Linked DNA regions of Homo sapiens: regions 2, 3 and 4 are each linked to region 1. The links come from fine-mapping of genetic effects on gene expression. A gene starts in region 1. Each other region holds a variant in brackets. All regions are shown on one strand. Distances are between the middles of the regions.

Region 1 (5,149 bases):
CTTGAACTCTTGGACTCAAGAGATCCTCCCACCTTGGCATCCCAAAGTGCTGGGATTATAGGCATGAGCCATCATGCCAAGCCATAAACATCATTGAGAAAAAATACACCATACAATATCTCCACCAAAAATTACTTTTTCAGTTATATCTTCCATTGAAACAATTAAGTAACATTCACGTTTATTAATAAAATTCTTAGCTTTTTCCTGCCCTATATGAGATCTCAAAATGTTAAGATGGTGGCCGGGCATGGTGGTTCAAATCCCAGACTGTAATCTCAGCATTTTGGGAGGCCAAGGTAGGTGGATCACTTGAGGTTAGAAGTTCGAGACCAGCCTGGCCAACATGGTGAAACCCCATCTCTACTAAAAATACAAAAATTAGCTGGGTGTGGTGGCACATGCCCGTAATCCCAGCTACTCAGGAGGCTGAGATACAAGAATTGCTTGCACCCTGGAGGCAGAGGTTGCAGCGAGCTGAGATCGTGCCACTGCATTCCAGTCTGGGTGACAAAGTGAAACTGTGTCTCAAAAAAAACAGATAGATAGACAGATAGATAGATAGTATTTTACTGACTTTCAACTAAGTGATTGTTACAAGACCTGTAAAGGGTTTTGAAGAGAAGCTATGACCATCCTAACCTTTTGGGGCCACCATGATGAAAGAGAAAACCCATGCCTTTTGGTCACATTGAGTAAAATGTTCTTCCCCTCTTCCCTGTAACACTTGTTCAAATTCATCTGTATATTAAAGAAATCAGAGGTTCTAGTATTCTCTAGGTTTAAAAATAAAATGATTTCCTCTTGATTATGTGACCTAAATTTGGTTCAGAACATATTTGCCAAAAGCTATACAAAAAAAGAATTAGATAAGTCATTTTTAGCTTAAAAAATGATGCTTTGTATGAACCAGCCCTCATTTTCAACATTCTGGAATTTTATTAATCTCATTCCCTGCTTCTGTTTTAAAACTGTTTTTTTTTAATTGCCAGAACAAACATTCACAAAACTGATACTTTAAATAAAACTGTAACTAAGCATAGAAGTATAGAAGTAACCCAGCTTTTCCCCTCTTTGGGGTTTTGTGTTATTTTATTGCTCATATAAATACAATATACACGTGGCTCTGTCTCGGTGGAAATCTGAAAAAACAGATCTTGCAGTCCAGAAACTGAAAACAAAGTTTAAAAACAAAAACCTTCTACCTCAAGAGTCTAGGATATGCCATGAATCTATTTTTGTAGTAATTTTAAAAAACACAATATATTCCTTTTAAAATCTTTCTCAGAGAAAGTAGAAACTGGGCTTTGAGAGGGCTCTTTTAGCCAAACCCTGTGAGGACCCACCAAGCTAGAGCCTCTTTATCTAGTGACAGGGAATCTAACCATTCTTAAAACTTGTGGGTCCTCGGAGTGAGAACCCATAGGATAGAGAACTGCAATTTGTGGCTATTTTTAGCCAGCAATCACAGAGAGAACTTAAGCAGCCATTAAAAGGAGGCAGTGAACTGTGTTAAATTCTAGATGAAAGAGAGAAACAGCGGAGAGGGCCAATCCTGATGACTCACGGTGCACGAGTTCCCCTTTAAGCAGGGATGTGTCCTTGCAAGGAGTCCCTGCCCTTCCCTGGCCTCAATTTCATCCTCTTTAAAAGGAACTAGTCAGCTGGGTGCAATGGCTCACGACTGTAATCCCAGAACTCTGGGAGGCGAGGTGGGAGGATCACTTGAGTCCGGGAGTTCGAGATCAGCCTGGGCAACGTGGCGAAACTCTGTCTCTACAGAAAATACCAAAAAATTAGCTAGGTGTGGTGGCGCGCGCCTATAATCCCAGCTACTCAGGAGGCTGAGGTGGAGGATCACCTGAGCCTGAGGAGGTCAAGGCTGCAGTGAGCCATGATAGCGCCTCTGCACTCCAGCCTGGGCGACTGTGAGACCCTGTCTCAACAAAAAATAAAAATAAAAGGTACTTGTCGGCTCCTCAGGTCTTCTGCTTTATTATCGCAAGTCACCGCTCACTTGAGAAAAAAGGCGACTTTAATGGTATATACAGAAAAGAGGCGTCTGCCCTCAAATAACAGAGAACATTTATCAGGCACTTTGTTGGGTGCCTGGCGCTGTACTGCGTTCTGTGTACGTATTCTCTACCTTAGAGTTACCCTTCAAGAAAGGCATTTTCATCTCTAGTTGAGATGAAGAAGGAGACAGGACTTGGAGGAGACCTTTGGCAGGGCTGGATGGGAGGGAGCCAGGTCTAGAACTGGAGGGGCAACGCGGCCCCGGGCGCAGGGGCGGGGCTAGGGCCTGGAGGCTGGGTCAGGGGCGGGGCCGGGGCCTGGGACGGGGCGAGGCGGACTTGCCTTGAAGTAAGCGAACTGCAGGAACTTGTAGGGCTCGCGGCGCTGGAAGTCCGCCAGCACCTCGCGGCTGGGCTGGGACTGGCGGAAGGCTGGCAGGCCCTGCTTGCAGCGCTTGAGGCAGTGCGCGCGGCGCAGCAGGCCCCCGAAGAGGCGCAGCTCGGGATAGCTGGCGAGGCCGGCGGCGGGCTCGGGCTGCGGCGCGGCGCTGCAGTTGCGGTGGCAGAAGGCCTCGCTGTCGCGCAGCAAGCGGTGCAGCCGCAGGCTGATCTCCAGGTAGCCCACGCTCTCGGCCCAGTGCTCGCCGCTGTACTTGTCCAGCGCGTGCCGGTAGGCCGACTCGAGCGGCATCAGCTCGTCCCGTGGGAAGCTGCGGAAGCTGTAGCGTTCGTATTGGGCGCGCCCGGCGCGCAGCGCGCAGGCCACGCACAGCAGCGCTAGCAGCGCCGCGGCCCCCCGGCGCCCCGGCTCCATCGCGCCCGGCGAAAGGAAGGAAGGAAGGGACGAAGGAAGGGAAAAGGGGAGGGAGAAGGAAAGGAAAGAGGACGGTGCGACGCGGCGGGCCCAGTGCTTTCGGGGCGGGGACGCCAGCCTCCGGCCCGCCCCGTCCGGCCGCCCCTCCCCACCCAGCCGGGGGATCTGGGCGCCAGCTGCCAGCACCTAGAGGGTGCCCGGGAAAGGCGCGCTGCGCACTGGTTCACGCAGGCTGATGCGCATGATGGGACTCTGCCGCTCATTCACTTGGAGACCCGCCTGCAAGGCCGACGCGGCCCTAATAGATTATATACATCGGCCCTACGGTCTATATAATCTACGATCTTTATATTCGTTTGGAGGTTTGTGAAAACGAAGATTCCTGGGCTGTGCCCCCAGAGTTTCTGATTCAGAAAGTCTGGGGTGGAGGTCTGACGATTTGTGTGTTTAACCAGCACCCTGATGAGGCTAATGCTGCGGGCCCAAGGGCCGCACTTTTAATAGCACTGCCCAACCTTAAATTTTAGTGAGAGAAAAAGACAGTGCAAAAATAAAATTAATAAGGATGTCAGCACTTTGTAAACTGTATAGCTAGTCAGGTTGAAGATGTGCACACCTTATGAATCTGCAACACCATTCGGTGGAATATGCTGGAGAAGCTTGCGCGTGTGCATCAAAAAATATGGATGGAATGTTAATGGCAGCACTTTTAAAAAATCTTTAAACTTTTAAATCTTGAAATAATTTACAAGAAAGCTGCAAAAACAGTACAAAAAGTTCCTATATACCCTTCATCAAGATTCACAAGTTGCTAACGTTATACCACATTTCTATCTTTACATTTTTTTCTGACTCATTTGAGATAGGTTGCATGTATCAGGCCCACTGTCCGTTAGTCTTTTTTTTTTCTTTTTTTTTTTCCTTTTTTTTTTTTTGAGACGGAGTCTCGCCCTGTCACCCAGGCTGGAGTGCAGTGGCGCGATCTCGGCTCACTGCAACCTCCGCCTCCCGGGTTCAAGCAATTCTCCCTGCCTTAGCCTCCCGAGTAGCTGGGATCATAGGCACACACCACCATACCTGGCTAATTTTTCTATTTTTTACTAGAGATGAGGTTTTGCCATGTTGGCCAGGCTGTTCTTGAACTCCTGACCTTAGGTGATCTACCTGCCTCTGCCTCCCAAAGTGCTGGGATTACAGGCGTGAGCCACCGTGCCCAACCCCTTAGTCTTTCAGTATGTATGTCCTAAGAATGAAACTACCAGACAATCAAATTTAGGAAATTTAATACTGATAGAAGACTTTAATCATGTTCCATTTCCGGTTATGTCAGCTGTTCCAATTATGTCTTTCATGGCACTTTTTTCTCTTAGGATGCAGTCCATCCGTGATCACTGTTACATCTAGTCTATTTCATATCCTTTAAACTGGTTCCTCGGCTTTTCTTGTCATGCCGTTGTCATTTTTGAAAAATATAGGCCAAAACAGCAATGAGATACCACTACAAAATCCAAAACACTGACAACGTCACATGCTGACAAGGATGTGGAGCAACAGGAACTCTCATTCATTGATAGTGGCAATGCAAAATGGTACATACAGTTTAGAAGACAGTTGGGCCGTTTCTTACAAAACTAGGCATACTCTACTCATACAATCCAGAAATTGCACTTCTTGGTATTTACCCAAATGGGTTAAAACTTATGCACACACCTGCGAATGGATGTTTGTAGCAACTTTATTCACAATTACCATAACTTGGAATCAACCAAGATGTCCTTCAGTGGGTAAGTGGATACATAAACTGTGGTATATACACACAATGGAATTTTATTCCAAGCCAAAAAGAAATGAGCTATCAAGCCATGAAAAGACATGGAGAAGTCTTAAATGCATATTACTGGTTGAAAGAAGCCAAACTGAAAAGGCTACATACTGTGTGATTCCAGCCAAATGACATTCTGGAAAAGGCAAAACTATGGAGACAGTAAAAGGATCAGTGGTTGCTGAGAATTATGGAAAGGGAGGAATGAATGGGTAGAGGACAGGATTATTGGAGCAGTGAAACTATTCTATATGATAGTATAATGGTGGATATATGCTATACATTTGTTAAAATCCATAATATGTACAACACTAAGAGTGAGCCCTAATGTAAACCGGACTTTGGGTGATAACGATGTGTTGATGTAGGTTCATTGATTGTAACAAATGTACCATTCTAGTGCAAGACATTGACAGTGGGGGAGCTTGCGCATGTTGTAGGGTCATGGAGTATATTTGAACTCTGTAGTTTCCGCTCAGTTTCGCTATGAATCTAAAA
Region 2 (5,149 bases), 29 kb before region 1:
CGATGGGCGGCCTCCCCACCAGCCTGCAGAACCAAACAGCAACCACTGAGCTCCATGCTGATGGGTCAAAGGACAAGCAAGGCATCTTAGAGCAGGCCTGGAAGCTCCCACAAAGCTTACAAATGTGTTTGTTTTTTCGAAGACGGGCCAGACTTGAGGCTGAACCAATGGGGTCTCCATCCAGGAATCTTCTAGGCTCTTCCAAGAAGCACACTCAGGGAGGTGTTGGGTTGAGGTCATTGAGTGCAGCCTGCACACCAGGGTTTCATGGTAGGTTTGGAAGACCCAGCCCAGTTTTTGTTTTTTTTTTTTAAGGTTTGGTTTCCTTTGAAATAGAAATTTTGGTAACTCAGCTCTACAGCCTTCAATCAAAGCAAAGTACTGACAATATTGACTGTACTATCACCCGGGTCCTCAGGGGACATCACTAGGGTAGGGGTGGAGGTGCTTTTCAATCCCCAGTGAAAGGAGGCCAACTTCAGAGAGTGAACGAGGACCCCCCAGCATGCCAAGTCAACCCATACGTGGAACAACAACATGTACAGAGAGCTCACCCCAGGCTCACAAGACAAGGACCCAACAGTACCTCTGCAGGGCACAGAGGTGGAGTGAGTCACAACACCCAACCCTGCCTGGGTCCCTGTGGACGTCGGCTTTCATTTTCTCACACAGCTGGGAAGGACACTGCAGCCTGAGGCTATAAGGGGAGTTCACAGCTGCTGGGCACACTATTTACAGACTCAGGAATCCCGGAGCAGGGCGTCCACTCGCTGGGTCCCCCACTACTTTCTAGTCCTGTCTCATCACCCTCTTCCCCACTGAGTTCAAAAGGAAGTTTCTCTGGTGGAGTAAAGGTTGGGGTGAGGAAAGAAAGGAGAACCCGGCATCCCGTGGGTGAAGGCCATCTCCCCCAGCAGGAAGCCACGTAAGATCTGACGCATCGCTGGGATTGGGGGCTGCTGTGGACACGGTGCATCCACCAGTAATAACACTGACTCCTCGGGCCAAACACCCCCGCTGGGAGTACAGATTTTGTGGACGTGGGCAACTTCAGCCCAAGACAGAAGTGGTAGGGGACTGTCCTGGGTGGGTACCCTCAAAGGAGAACCTGATGCAGGGATTCTTGTGCAGGTGAGTGAGGACGTGGTGTCAGAAGGGATGAGGAAAGCAGGATAGAGCTGAAGGAGAAACAGAAGGATGTGCCCGAGTTCCCCGAGGTTGGTAGAGTGTTCTGGGGGATAAGGGAAGCCCAGAAAAAGCACAACGTGTGAGTGTTCCACCCCAATTAACCACCATTACACAAAAACCCAAACACTCTATCCTTTTATTCCTTCCCAGGCTATTGCAGGAAAAGTCTTGTTTCCCAAACGCTGTGCCTTTCTCCTCTTGCCTTCAACCCTGGAGGGGCCCAACTACACAAGTGGCTTATTTGGAGAAGGGAATGAGGTTGAATAAAGAAAGCTCAGCTTCCAGAACACCACACTCTCTTGGTTTTCTCTGACCTTAAGGTAACTCCTTCTCAGTCCTTTGGCTGATTTCCCATTTCCCAGAGAGCCCAAGGGCTCCATCCATGGCTCTTTTCTGTTGCTTCTCAGTAATACTCAGAGACAATCTCAGTGGCCCCTCCAGCTGCATGGCTTTAAATGCCACTGACATGCTGATGGTTCAGTAGGGGGCGCTGTGGTGCCCTGCCAGATCCCTTCACACAGCCAGTGCCCAGGACCCCCACCCCCAACACACTACCATGCATGGTAGCTGCCAGATGCCTACAGCCTCTTTTCCAGAGACTTGCCCTCAACTGAAGTCACTTGCCTTCAAATGTACCCACACTCCCAGAGAACTTCTCACAGCCAATAAATGACTGATAAAGGCTTTCACAGGTTCCTTCTGAGAGCACCCCCAACAATAAACCAAGTGCATTCAGATCCCTGTCTCGAGCTCTGCTGCAGACCTGACCTGAGAGAACTCTCCACTTTGATTTGCAGCCAGAACCTCCCATTCCAACCACAGACAGCCTGCTTTGCACCAAATTCCATACTTACCCAGCCCATCCTTCCCTATTTCAGTAACTGGTAACTCCATCTTTCCTGCTATTCAGGCCAAAAACCTTAATGTCATCATTAACTCTTCCTTCTCTTACACTCCACATTCAAACTCTCAGCAAATCCTATTGGCTCTTTTCAAAATAAATCTAGATATTTGACCACTGCTGTTGCTGTGGCCCAGGCCCAAGCCTGGAACCTTGCAGTAGCTTCCTAACAGGTCTTCCCTCTTCCTTCTGCCCTTGTCCACTAAAGTTTTTCACAATATGGCAGCTAGAATGACCCTTGCAAAATATAAATCAATCAAGGCACTCCTCTGTTCAAACCCTCCAGTGGTTCCCATCTCACTTAGCAGAAGCCAAGGCCCTCCACCACCTGTCCTC[C/T]CCAGCCGCCTCTCCTTCCATTCTACCCCTGCCCACGACTCTGCTTGGTCTCCCTGCTCTTTCCTGACCACGTAGAGCAAGTTCTCACTTTGGGGCAGTGCACATCCTGTTCCTCTGCCTGGAATGCCTTGTCCAGGATCCACTTCCCTAACGTCTCTGCTCAACGTCACATTCCCAGTGAGGCCCCATTTAAAACTGCAGCCTCATCTCCAGGATTTCTTACTCCCTCCCCTGCTTTATTTTTCTCCACAGCAATTATCACTACATGATACCTTGTATATATTTATTCCTATGTATTGGCTATCTCTTTCTCCCTGTAGAATGTAAGCTCCATGAGCACAGGGAACTTTCCCTGTTATTCTGTGAAGTATCTCTAGTTCCCAGGTCAATGCCTAGCACACAGTAGGTACTCAATAAATATTTACTGAAAGAATGAATGAAACTAGACAGCTCTGGCTTTCTTCCTTTTCCAACTCGGAGACTTATAACTAAGCATTGTCCTCAAATGGGATCGGCCAACCGTTGTAATTTTGGAGATGCAAAGTGGGGCAAAAGCCACATTTCTGCACTCTACACTCTCTACTCAACTTGTTTTTCAGTGGGTGCTAGAATTGGTACAAGTCAGACCAAGTGAAGACCATTGTGAGGCTGGAGAAATTTAGCCTATGTCTTCCACCATCTTTCCCGGATGGGGAGAAAGGAGACTAAAATCTGGAAAAGCAAATAAGCCAAAGGAGGTTTTCACAATTATCATCTTCTAGGAATGTTTTTCTTATTTAAAAAATAATACTGATTTTCTGGGAAAAACAAAAAAACAAGCCAGAGAAGACTGCCCTTCAAACCAAAATGGTAAGAAAGGCAGCTATGAACATGGGGAAGACAAGTGTGAACATGAGGAAGACAGGGATGAAGGTGTGAAAACAGATGTGAGGATAAGAAGACAGGTGTAAAGGTGAGAAAGAGGCCGGGCATGGTGGCTCACGCCTGTAATCCCAGCACTGTGGGAGGCCAAGGCAGATGGATCATCTGAAGTCAAGAGTTCGAGACCAGCCTGGCCAACATGGCAAAACCCCGTCTCTACTAAAAATACAAAATTAGCCGGGCGTGGTGGCACATGCCTGTAATCCCAGGTACTCGGGAGGCTGATGCAGCAGAATTGCTTGAACCCAAGAGGCGGAGGTTGCAGTGAGCTGAGAACGTGCCATTGCACTCCAGCCTGGGCAAGAGAGCGAGACTCCATCTCAAAAAAAAGGTGAGAAAGATAGGTGTGAACATGAGGTGGCAGGTGTGAAGATAGGAAAGGCAGGCTCACCCCTGATGACATGCAGTTAGAGAGACGGGGGCTTCCCTTTCACTTTGGAGAGTAAAGAGAAGGCTCTGAGGTATCAACAGCCTGGGCTGTTGGGAAAAGGACAAAGAATCTGTGTTTCCTGAACGCCAAGAGGAAGTCTCTTTGGTTGCTGTGGGCTAGCTGGTCTCCTCCAGTTCCAAGAGGTCATCCACATATTCCACAACTTCTCCCTGTAAGAGACAACAGGACAACTTTATTAAATGGGCTATTGGACTTTTAAAAGTACTGATGAGCAGAAACAGTATCCCGAGAGGCCATCACCACTGTCTGCTTTGGCTGAAACAGGTTTTTTCTGCTGGTCTGGGGCCCAGAGGACCTGATTTCTCCCTGTGGAGGGGACCTCGGCTTCCACTCCATTTGAACTTGGTATCAAGTGCTCTGCGAGATCCGCCAACATGCTGTGTGAGGCGGACAGCCCAGCCTGTGAACAGCTCTACTAAGTGGCCCTCCTGTGTGCATCTCTGCCTACTCCCCTTCCTCCCCTCTCATGTGTGCAGGTCTCCCACAGGAACATTTTCTATCTGTTCCCTTTCTGCCTTGACCACCAGAACCCAAACTTCTCAAGGACCAGGGGACTGGGTTGATTTTTCTTCCCCAGAGTCCAGCACACAGAAGGTGCTCAATACATGTGTTGAAGGATGAATGATTGAGTGCTTGCATACATACTGCTGGTGTGACTGAAGCAATCACTCCTCTTACAGGAGAGACACACAGGGATAGTGGGATCCACTTGCCCAGTGTCGGTACCAGGAGCTCACCTGCTCCCTCCTTCTGCAATCAGCCTTATACTTCAACTTGAAGCAGCCCAGCACCCTTCCCAATTTCTTTCTCCACATTGACTTCTCTTCTATAACCCTCCTGGACCACCAGCTGATGACACCCATTCTCTTTTCTGCAGAGAATGAGTGAATGACCAAGGCTGAGGCCCCTTCCATAAGAGTCAACACAGACTGGCCCCACCAACCCTGCTAAAACTCGACCTCCTTCACTGAGCTCACCATCCCAGGCCAAGAGCCTGTTGGCTCCTTTTGATGTTTTAACACAGAGAAATTTATAAAAATCTTGCAGCATTTGGGAATAACTGGAAAACCTATCAAGTACATGAGACACAAATGGGGGGTCTTAGTATTATCATCAAATACTTCTACTATGTCATGCCTGAGATTAGAAACTCAAACTGTAGACACTACAGCTTGGAAAAATTGTTTTTCAGTTGCTTTCTAGACCCCAAAAGGAAAACACAGCATAGTAGAGGGATTATGTGTATAGCTATGACTTCTGCTTAGGGAGTTACTATATCCTGCTGTGTGTCTGTTGTGACTTGCGGGATGATGGTATTGTTTGCTTTTAGCTCACTAGTAATAAGTGCCCGA
Region 3 (5,149 bases), 39 kb before region 1:
GGAGTGGAATTGCTGTGTCATGGAGCATCCATATGTTCAATTTTAGTAGAGATGCCCAGTTTTCCATCGTGGTTGTTCCAGTTCACACTCCCACTAACAGTGCTGTATATCCTAGTTAACATTTGATATTGTCGGTCTGTTTAATTTTAGCCATTCTGGTGCTATGCAGTGGTATCTCATTATGACTATAATTAACATTTCTCTCTTACTAGTGAGGTTGAGCATCTTTCCACATGTTTAATGACTAATCTGATATCTTTCTGGTGATGTCCCAAGTCAACTATCTTGCCAATTTTTCTATGGTTTGTCTGTCTACTTAGTATAGATTTGTGGGAGTCCTTTTTAAATTCTGGATACAAGCCCTTTGGAGGTCATATGTGTTGCAGATAGCTTCTCTAACTCTGCCTTGCATTTTAACTCTCTTTGTGGTAGCTTTTAATGAACAGAGGATCTTCATTTTAATGTAATCCAGTTATCTGTCCTTGTGCCAATACCACAGCCTTAAAAGGTAATGCAGTTTTATAGTAAATCTTGAAATGTTTTGCATATGTCTTCCGGCTTTTTCTTTTTCAATATCGCCTTGTCTATTCTTACATTGCATTTCCATAAACTTCCATCCATTGCATTTCCATAAACTTTAACATTCAGTTAATGTCTGAGATTTTTATTGGAATTGTATTAGATCTGTATAGATCGATTTGGACAGAATTGCCAACTTAATGATCTTGAGCCTTCTACTACATGATCATGGTCTATTCCTCCATTCATTTAAGTCTTCTTTAATTTTGCTTAGCAATGTCTTATATCATTCCATGTAGAAGTCTTGAACATCTTTTGTTAGATTTATTCCTATGTGTTTGGTTTTTTTAATGTTATTGTAAATAGCATCCTTTTAAATTTTAATTTTCTGTTTATTGACAATATTTAGAAATACAATTGATGTTTATATTTACTGTAGACCTAGTATCCCTAATAAACTCACATGTTTTTTGTTGTTGTTGTTTTTGAGTTGTTGTTTTTGTTGTTGTTGTTTTTGAGTCTCACTCTGTCACCCAGGCTGGAGTGCAGTGGTACGATGTTGGCTCACTGCAACGTCCGCCTTCCGGGTTCAAGCGATTCTCATGTCTCATCCTCCTGAGTAGCTGGGATTACAGGCATATGCCACCATGCCTGGCTATTTTTTTGTATTTTATTAGAGATGGGCATTCGCCATGTTGGCCAGGCTGGTCTCGAACTCCTGGCTTCAAGTGATCCACCTGCCTAGGCCTCCCAAAGTGCTGGGATTACAAGTGTGAGCCACCATGCCCGGCCTAAGCTCAGATGTTAAATTTTAGTTACTTGTAATATTCATATGTAGATTATTTGGGTTTATCTATGATACACAGTCATATCATCTGTGAATAATAACAGTATTATTTATTCTGTCCCAGCCTTTATGCTTTTAATTTCCTTTTCTTATGTTCTATACTGGCTCTGTGCCTTTGGAGCTAATGAGGTTTTTTCCCTCTTTTCTTCCAGATGAGGCTGAGGCACACATTGACTATGAAGATAACTTCCCTGATGACAGATCTGTGTCATTCAGAGAGCTCATGGAGGATTCCCGGACAGAGGCAGATGAGGACAGGGGTCAGGGAGACTCCTCTGAGGAGGCTCCAAAACAGGACCGTCTGGTCTCCATTTCTGTGGGGAGAGAAAACATAGCCCGGGATAAAGTCTTTGTGCCAACCACAGGCTTGCCTGGTGCTGGGAGCAGTGTCCCCGCAGATTCACCAGGATCACGGCTGCTCCAGAAGCACTTGTTCTGGTTTCCTGCTGAGGCTTTCCACAAGCCTGGGTTGGAAAAGGAGGTGGATGATGACACCAAAAAGCAGTTTTCTGCTGGAGACAACCACAGTGGTGTAAAATTGGTCCCAGGTGAACCTGAAACCAAGGTGATCTACGGCAACACTGATGGTCCCTCGGGGCCATTTGTGGGCAAGAATGACAGCAAGGCAGGAGATCCAGTGGTGAGCAGCAGTGATGAGTCCTGGTTAGATGGCTACCCTGTGACAGAGGGGGCTTGGAGGAAGACAGAGGCAGAAGAGGAAGAAGATGGGGACAGAGGGGATGGGTCAGTAGGGCTGGATGAAAACGTCCTAGTTACTCCTGATCAGCCCATTCTTGTGGAAGTTAAGAAGCCCAAGAGTAGCACCCTCACACCAAGCGAGGGCATGACCCATAGTTCAGTTCTTCCATCTCAAATGCTAGATGTGGAAGCTTTGGCGCTCAGACCCGTGAATGCTTCCGAGACTGAGGGCATTGGGGATGGTGACTTGACGAAGTACCAGTCAACTCTACCCTGGAGATTCATCACAGAGGAATCTCCCATGGCCACCCTGTCCTATGAGCTCACCAGCTCCACCCTGGAGATATTAACAGTGAACACTGTCAAGCAGACACCTAACCACATCCCCTCAACGATCATGGCAACCACCCAGCCTCCAGTAGAAACCACTGTTCCTGAGATCCAGGATAGCTTCCCATACCTGCTGTCTGAAGACTTCTTTGGACAGGAAGGCCCCGGGCCAGGTGCAAGTGAGGAGCTTCATCCCACCTTGGAGTCGTGTGTGGGGGACGGATGTCCTGGCCTCAGCAGAGGCCCTGTGATCGCCACCATTGTCACCGTCCTGTGCCTACTGCTGCTCCTGGCAGGTGTGGGGATGGTGTGGGGCTACCGCAAGTGCCAGCACAAGAGCTCTGTGTACAAGCTGAATGTTGGCCAGCGGCAGGCTCGGCACTACCACCAGCAGATCGAGATGGAGAAGGTCTAGGCACCTTTGGAGTGGGTTCTCCCAAAGCCACTTGGGAGGAAAATAACTGTGACACATCACACGATAATTCACTAGAGCATGACGCAGGTGGACTG[A/G]GGCTCATCATTTTTTCCTCAGCCCTTTGTTTTATAGGCTGAGAAGTGTCTCTGGAGCACCTGGGAGGGCAGGGAGGCTTTGGTGACATCATCACTCATGTCAATGTCTCCTCCACCATCTGCCCTGGAATTGACTACACTAATCCCAGACCTGTGCTTGGGCCCTGTTTCCAGTGTGAGGTCAAAAATCGCCTCTTCCTTCATCACAGTATTATCTTTTTTTTTTTGAGACAGAGTCTCATGCTGTTGCCCAGGCTGGAGTGCAGTGTCCCGATCTGAGCTCACTGCAACCTCTGCCTCCCAAGTTCAAGCAATTCTCCTGCCTCAGCCTCCCAAGTAGGTGGGATTACAGGCATGCACCACCATGCCCAGCTAATTTTTTTATATTTTTAGTAGAGATGGAGTTTCACCATGTTGGCCAGGCTGGTCAAGAACTCCTGACCTCAAGTGATCTGCCCTCCTTAGCCTCCCAAAGTGCTAGGATTCCAGGTGTGAGCCACATCACAGTATTACCTTTTTGAAGAAAGAAAATCACCAGCTTCATGCCCTGAAATTTTATAAATAGTCATGATAAACCAAGTGTATGAGAGCAGTATTATCTAGGACATGGATATTGAATTATTGGGAGAGGAATATGGAAGAATAATGGGTTGTTTCCTTTTAATGTTGTGATGTTGCTGAGGGCAGATGAACCAAGAGCCAGGACACAGTCTAGAAGCTTTGAGGTTTCTTTTTTCATTGTTTCTTGAAATTAGAATTTAAGACTGACATTTTGTTGGGGGAGTTGAGGAGTGAAGAAACACACATCCCCCTCTGTTCCCTCCATTCTGTGGGACAGTCTGTCATTTATTTTATTTTATTTTCAATATTTCATGGTTAAGGATTTGCCATTATTTTTTAAAAACAAAGTTAGCTTTGTACCAGTAAGTACCATTTCCTCTCAGAAGCAGTGGCCTAGTTGTCCTTGACCAGTCTGTGCCTAGGAATGTCTTGGAATTTTTGCCAGGACTAACAAAACTCAGTCCTTGGTTTCCTCTCTCAGGATTAACCATTTCTCTGAACTCCAGTAAGAGAGAATGACACGGGAGAAAAAAAAAAGAAATGTTTTCAGAGGGCCGAACACCAGGTTATCAAGTATGGGCACATACTTGATGGAGAAGCAGAAGAATCTGTGAAAGAATATGAAATGATCTGTGCTGATCTGTTCTCTAGTGTGGAAACTGGGAGCTCTGTGGAAACAGAATCCATCCTGTCTGTTGGGTAACCCATTTCGTAGCATCTAAATCATCTTAGGGTGGCTCAGCGAGGATGGTTTATGGCAGTGGTTCTCAAAGTGTGGTCCTCAGACCAGTAGCATCAGCGTCACCTGGGAATTTGTTGGAGATGCAAATTCTCTAGTCCCACCCTGGACTCAGGAAACAGGAACCCTGGGAGTAGGGCCCAGTTCTGTTTTTAACAAGCCCTCCAGGTGATTTTGATATGCACTCAAGTTTGAGAGCCTGTTGGTTTATAATAATCTCAAATGTGAACTTCGAGGCCAGCTGAAGCCCTAAAGGCACAGATGAGTATGTGGTGTGTGTTGTGTGGAAGTCAGGCATGGCTGTGTGCAGCTGAGGTGGCATTTGAAGCTGCCTAAATGCCACCTGCAATAGTCTCCTGTATGTTGGCACAGAAATGAAACATGTTATATTTTTCTAATATGAATCACCTTCTTAGAAATAGTTATCAGTGGTAAAAAGTGATGAATGCAACACATTTATTTTGAGACACCATAGCAGTCTAAGTGTTTTTGTGTGGTAGAGGGAAATCCTGATCTTTTTTATGATTGAAAAATTGTTGGTGGTGTTTTACCTAAGGAAAAAAAACATTCGCAACATGTTTTCTACCCTGCCACCTCTTTTCAGCAAGCTTTGGAAAAGTAATAGGCGAAGTAGCTGTAAAGAGAGGCAGCATAATCAAAGATCTTATTCCCCATAGTTGGGTAAAATAAAGCCTGAAGGTACCAACTAGAATACCTGTGCATCAGACGAAGTCAAGAACAATAGGAATAAAATGCTTTCTGCATGTAGCCAAAGCAAAACATAATAGAATAAAAGCCAGAGACTGTATATATTTATAAATTAGATCCTAATCTACTGCAAGATAACTTTTCTATTTTTAACTATATAAAATAACCTCTGTCTCAGCATTGGGACTGTGTTAGCAACTATTATTGTGGAATAACCCAGAACATTGGATTTATAC
Region 4 (5,137 bases), 49 kb after region 1:
CAGGTAGGTTGTTACAGATGTCTTGAGAAGATTTATAAAAGCTTCAGCCTAGGTGCGGTGGCTCACGCCTGTAATCCTGACACTTTGGGAGGCTGAGGCGGGTGGATTACCTGAGGTTGGGAGTTCGAGACCAGGCTGGCCAAAATGGCAAAACCTCGCCCCTACTAAAAATACAAAAAATTAGCTGGGCATGGTGGTGGGCGCCTGTAATCCCAGCTACTCAGGAGGCTGAGGCAGAAGGATTGCTTGAACCCTGGAGGCGGAAGTTGCAGTGAACCGAGATCGTATCAATGCACTATAGCCTGGGTGACAAAGCGTGACTCTGTCTCAAAACAAACAAACAAACAAAAAAGCTTCAACAATTTATATCAAAAGGGGGAGGTATTTTGAAGGCTGGGGTACCTCTGCACAAATACTTTTGAAAGTTTAGTGAAAGTCTGAGTGTTTATCACTGACCAGTGCATAGCAACAAACTAAACCTCTAGGAAATTAGGCTTTGAACTACGTAACCAGATCTTACTGATAAACTGGTAATTCTTTGAATTGGTATTGAACCCTGTTTGCGGTTGACCAACTGACTTCAGTGCTTTCTCTTCCTATTTACTTAGCATATTCCACAGCCAATGATAGCACCTCGCTAATCAAAATGACAAGTCAGGCATGGTGACTCACACTTGTAATCTCAGCACTTTGGGAGGCCAAAGTGGAGGGATTGCTTGAGCCCAGGAGTTTGATACCAGCCTAGGTAACATAGCGAGACCCTATCTCTATAAAAATTAGCCAGGTGTGCTGGCACATGCCTGTAGTCCGGGAGGCTGAGGTGGGAGGATTGCTTGAGCCTGGGAGGTTGAGACTGCAGTGAGCCATGATTGTACCACTGCACTCCATCCTGGGCAACAGAGAGGGACTTTGTCTCAAAAAAAGAAATAAGGTCGGGCGTAGTGGCTCATGCCTGTAATCCCAGCACTTTGGGAGGCCGAGGTGGGTGGATCACCTGAGGTCAGGAGTTCGAGACCAGCCTGACCAACATGAGGAAACCCTGTCTCTACTAAAAAATACAAAATTAGCTGGGTGTGGTGGTGCATGCCTGTAATCCCAGCTACTCGGGAGGCTGAGGCAGGAGAATTGCTTGAAGCTGGGAGGCAGAGGTTGCAGTGAGCCCAGATTGCGCCATTGCATTCCTGCCTGGGCAACAAGAGCGAAACTCTGTCTCAAAAAAAAAAAAAAAAAGAAATAAAAACAAAATGACAGTTTCTGGGATGGTGTCATTGGATTGCTTGGTAGCTGCAATGCCTTCTATATTCTGGCCACTTTTATAGAGCAATGTGTAAATGATAGTTTTTTTCTTTGTCTTACTCCAGTACCTTCATGTTTTGCACGCTTAGCATATTATTGGTGTTTTCACTGTGGTAACTCATTTAATCTTTATGCCAACTTTATGTGGCATGTACATTTATTATTCCTATTTGACAATATAAATATAGAATTTATTAGAACTTCATTTTATACGGAAAAAAAGCCTTCCTGTGACTGAGAAGAGGATACACTGTTCAGTCACTCTTTTCTTCATTCAGCAAACATTGCTTGGATATGTTCTATGCTCCAGGCTTTGTGTCCTGTGGCAAGGATGGTCTTAGTCTGTTTTCTGTTGCTTGTAACAGAATACCTGAAACTGAGTAATTTATAAAGAAAAGCATTTATTTCCTACAGTTATGGAGGCCAAGAAGTTCAAGGTGGAGGGGCTATATCTGGTGAGGGCCTTCTTGCTGGTGGGGACTCTGCAGAGTCCTGAGGGGGCACAGGGCATCACATGGTGAGGGGGCTGAGTGTCCTAGCTCAGATCTCTCTCCCTCTTCTTATAAAGCCACCAGTCCCATTCCCATGATGACCCATGAATCCATTAACCTATTAATCTATTAATCCATGAGTGGATTGATCTACTTATGAGGGCTGAGCCCTCATGACTCAACACCTCTTAAAGGCCCCACCTCTCAATACTACCACATTGGGGATTCGATTTCAACATGAGTTTCAGAGGGACAAACATTCCAACCATAGCAGATGGATACAGGCACACTGGTCCTCGTCCCCTGAGGAGCTCAGCTGAGGAGACAACTACATGCAGGACAACTTTTATGAGACTTTTACTTCAGAAGGTACTTGTCGAGTCCTGTATATCCTGATCTCTGCTGCCAGCCCTGGTGTAATAAGGCTGCACTGGTGTCTCTTTGTACTAAATCATAATTTTTTTTTTTTTTTTTTTTGAGACAGAGTTTCACTCTTGTTGCCCAGGCTGGAGTGCAATGGTGCGATCTTGGCTCACCGCAACCTCCGCCCCCCCGGGTTCAAGCAATTCTCCTGCCTCAGCCTCCCAAGTAGCTGGGATTACAGGCATGCGCCACCAAGCCTGGCTAATTTTGCATTTTTAGTAGAGATGGGGTTTCTCCATGTTGGTCAGGCTGGTCTCGAACTCCCGACATCTGGTGATCTGCCTGCCTCAGCCTCCCAAAGTGCTGGGATTACAGGCGTGAGCCACCGCACCCAGCCAGAAAACTCAGAATGTTTTTAAAAAGTTTACGAATTTGTGTTGGGCCACATTCAAAGCCATCCTGGGCTGCATGTGGCTTACAGGCTGGGGTTGGACAAGCTTGTGTTAAACTTTTC[T/C]TGTTTTCCAGATTACCTGGCAGCTGTGGACAAGTGGTTGGGAGTCCTTCTGCCCAAGATGAAGCCTCTCCTCTATCAGAATGGAGGGCCAGTTATAACAGTGCAGGTAACCCTGGAGTTGAGCATGGATGGATTGGGGGAGGGGTTCCCATCCATCTACATTACATAAATGATAGAAGTGATGCAGACATGAGCCTCATAGGTCTGTTTCTTTAAGAGGTAATGCCACAGATAGTGCTTTTAGTTCAATTGCATTTGGGAAGGCATTGCCATTTTTGAATGCCTGCTATGTGGCAGGCTTTGTGCTGGGTGCCTTGTAAATGCTATTCAATTCTTCCAACCACCTTCTTTTTTCAGTGAGGAAGTTTGAAAAGGTTAAGTGACTTGGCTAAGGTCACCCAGCCAGCAGGTGGCAGAATTAGGATAGCACCCTAATTCTGTGGATCCCAGAGTTTGTCTCTCTGTTTCTCCTGCAATATTGTTTTCTGGCAGCAGGCATGCAGCGTGGACTGAAACACTTTGGTATCGGCACTGCCTTGACAGTCAGATAACCCTGGAATGGAAAAGGATATGGTCAATTGGGGCTGGCTGTTATGTTTCCTCTCTTACTTCCTGCCCCATTCTCCTTCTTCTATGTGTTCTTGGCTCTGCAAGGACTAATATACTGTGGGGTACATTGAACTTTAACAGTTTTTGGTGTTGGTAAAATTACTTAGGTGAAACATAAAACCATGTTCATTGGACATTGACCAAGGATGCCATGGATGCTCTTTTTTTTTTTTTTTTTTTTTTGAGAGAGAGTCTCATTCCGTTGCCCAGGCTGGAGTGCAGTGGGGCAATCTCGGCTTACTGCAACCTCTGCCTTCTGAGTTCAGGCAATTCTCCCACCTCAGCCTCCCATGTAGCTGGGATTACAGGCGCATGCCACCATGCCTGGCTAATTTTTGTATTTTTAGTAGAGACGGGGTTTCGCCATGTTGGCCAGGCTGGTCTCAAACTCCTGACCTCAGGTGATCTGCCCGCCTTGGCCTTCCAAAGTGCTGGGATTACAGGCGTGAGCCACCGTGCCCGGCTATGACCAAGGATGCTCTTATGGAAAAGAGTAAAGGTTTTTTGTTTTTTTTTTTAGGAGACAGAGTCTCGCTCTGTCGCCCAGGCTGGAATGCAGTGGCACAATCTCGGCTCACTGCAACCTCTGCCTCCCAGGTTCAGGCGACCCTCCTGTGTCAGCCTCCCAAGTAGCTGGCATTACAGGCGTGCACCACGATGCCTGGCTATGTTTTTGTATTTTTAGTAGAGACAGGGTTTCACCATGTTGACCAGGCTGGTCTCAAACTCCTGACCTCAGGTGATTCACCCACCTCAGCCTCCCAAAGTGCTGGGATTACAGGCGTGAGCCACCGTGCCCAGCTATGACCAGGGATGCTTTTATGGAAAAGAGTAAAGTTATGTAAAAGTGGCTGCATCCTGGACATCCCAGGGATGCAAAGTGGCACTCCCTAGGGGAGTGTGGGCCAGGCTTCCTTCTTATGAACAGTACTATGGGCAGCTTGTGGGGATGGATCATAGTAGGGTGGGAGCATGGGCACTGCTTTGCCTTTCAGGTGTCGGTGGACAGAGGTGCTGAGAGGGCTGCACTGGCCAGGGTGTCCGTTCTGAGGCTTTGTGGTGGGAGGAGATGTCTTCTTGAGAGAGGCCAGGTTGCTGCTCACAGAGGGATGTGTGAGTCACCCCACGTGCCCCTAGTTTTTACCATCTTGTGTCTGTACTGGTTAAGCTAATAGGAACCACATTTTCCTACATGAAGATATCAAGTCTGAAACTTGGGTGCGTCTTTGCTCTGCATGGCTGTGTCTTCTTCCTTTCTTCTGGCCTCAGGTGCAAACCCTCTTTTGATGCCCTCTTTTTTTCAGTCTCTGCCTCTCCTTGAATCACTTTCAATTTCTGCTCACAACTTTTCTGCCCCTTTTGGTTTTGGAAATGCCACAAAAAGTATAATCAAGTATTAATTCTGCAAAGGAGAATGAAGTTGACTGTGTGGAGATATTTCTTCTTGTGTCCATCCCTAGCAACCTCAGATGACTTTAACTTGACCCTGGGTCCTGCCAGGTGACTCTGTCCCCCTCCTCCTCCTCCTCTCCCCTTCCCATCTCCACATGCTTGAATCCCACTAATCATTTTTGCCCCTTGTTTACAAAATAAACAAGTATAGACATAAGAAAGCAGAAAAAACATAATTGTTACTCAAACCTCAGGAGCCATAGCAAAGCTCTTCACATTTTGGGAGTTTCCTTGAATATTTTTTATGCCTTTTTTTTCTGCTTTCTTACAGAGTAAGTTCATTCTGTGTGACCTATTTTCTGTGTGGCTTTTTTTGCTTCATTCTTTGTCATGAGCACTTTTTCATATCGTTCAAAATTCTTTCATCATCTTTCATGGTTGTCCTACTTACCTTCTGACGCACAGTTCCTAT

Evidence for each region.
Region 2: its variant is fine-mapped to the expression of CRTAP in esophagus muscle (GTEx, PIP 0.99). The same link has a PIP of 0.9 or more in transverse colon.
Region 3: its variant is fine-mapped to the expression of CRTAP in whole blood (TOPMed, PIP above 0.99). The same link has a PIP of 0.9 or more in blood mononuclear cells, monocytes and neutrophils.
Region 4: its variant is fine-mapped to the expression of CRTAP in whole blood (TOPMed, PIP 0.95).

Annotation. Positions count from the first base shown.
Region 1 is chr3:33,111,758-33,116,906 of GRCh38, reverse strand. CRTAP (cartilage associated protein) reads right to left here and starts at 2,893. Exons shown (of 7, transcript NM_006371.5): 1 at 2,359-2,893. The coding sequence starts at 2,829. RefSeq lists silencers at 459-607, 2,134-2,323, 2,764-3,063 and enhancers at 1,191-2,182, 5,063-5,149.
Region 2 is chr3:33,141,192-33,146,340 of GRCh38, reverse strand. It overlaps CRTAP (cartilage associated protein), which reads right to left. Exons shown (of 7, transcript NM_006371.5): 7 at 1-3,946. The coding sequence ends at 3,893. Among named protein-coding and RNA genes, the nearest start is that of CRTAP, 30 kb to the right of the region's middle. The variant C/T (reference allele first, on the strand shown) is at 2,426.
Region 3 is chr3:33,150,403-33,155,551 of GRCh38, reverse strand. SUSD5 (sushi domain containing 5) reads left to right here. Exons shown (of 5, transcript NM_015551.2): 5 at 1,519-5,149. The coding sequence ends at 2,810. Among named protein-coding and RNA genes, the nearest start is that of CRTAP, 39 kb to the right of the region's middle. RefSeq lists an enhancer at 1,538-2,737. The variant A/G (reference allele first, on the strand shown) is at 2,906.
Region 4 is chr3:33,063,096-33,068,232 of GRCh38, reverse strand. GLB1 (galactosidase beta 1) reads left to right here. Exons shown (of 16, transcript NM_000404.4): 4 at 1-3; 5 at 2,676-2,770. Among named protein-coding and RNA genes, the nearest start is that of GLB1, 31 kb to the left of the region's middle. The variant T/C (reference allele first, on the strand shown) is at 2,665.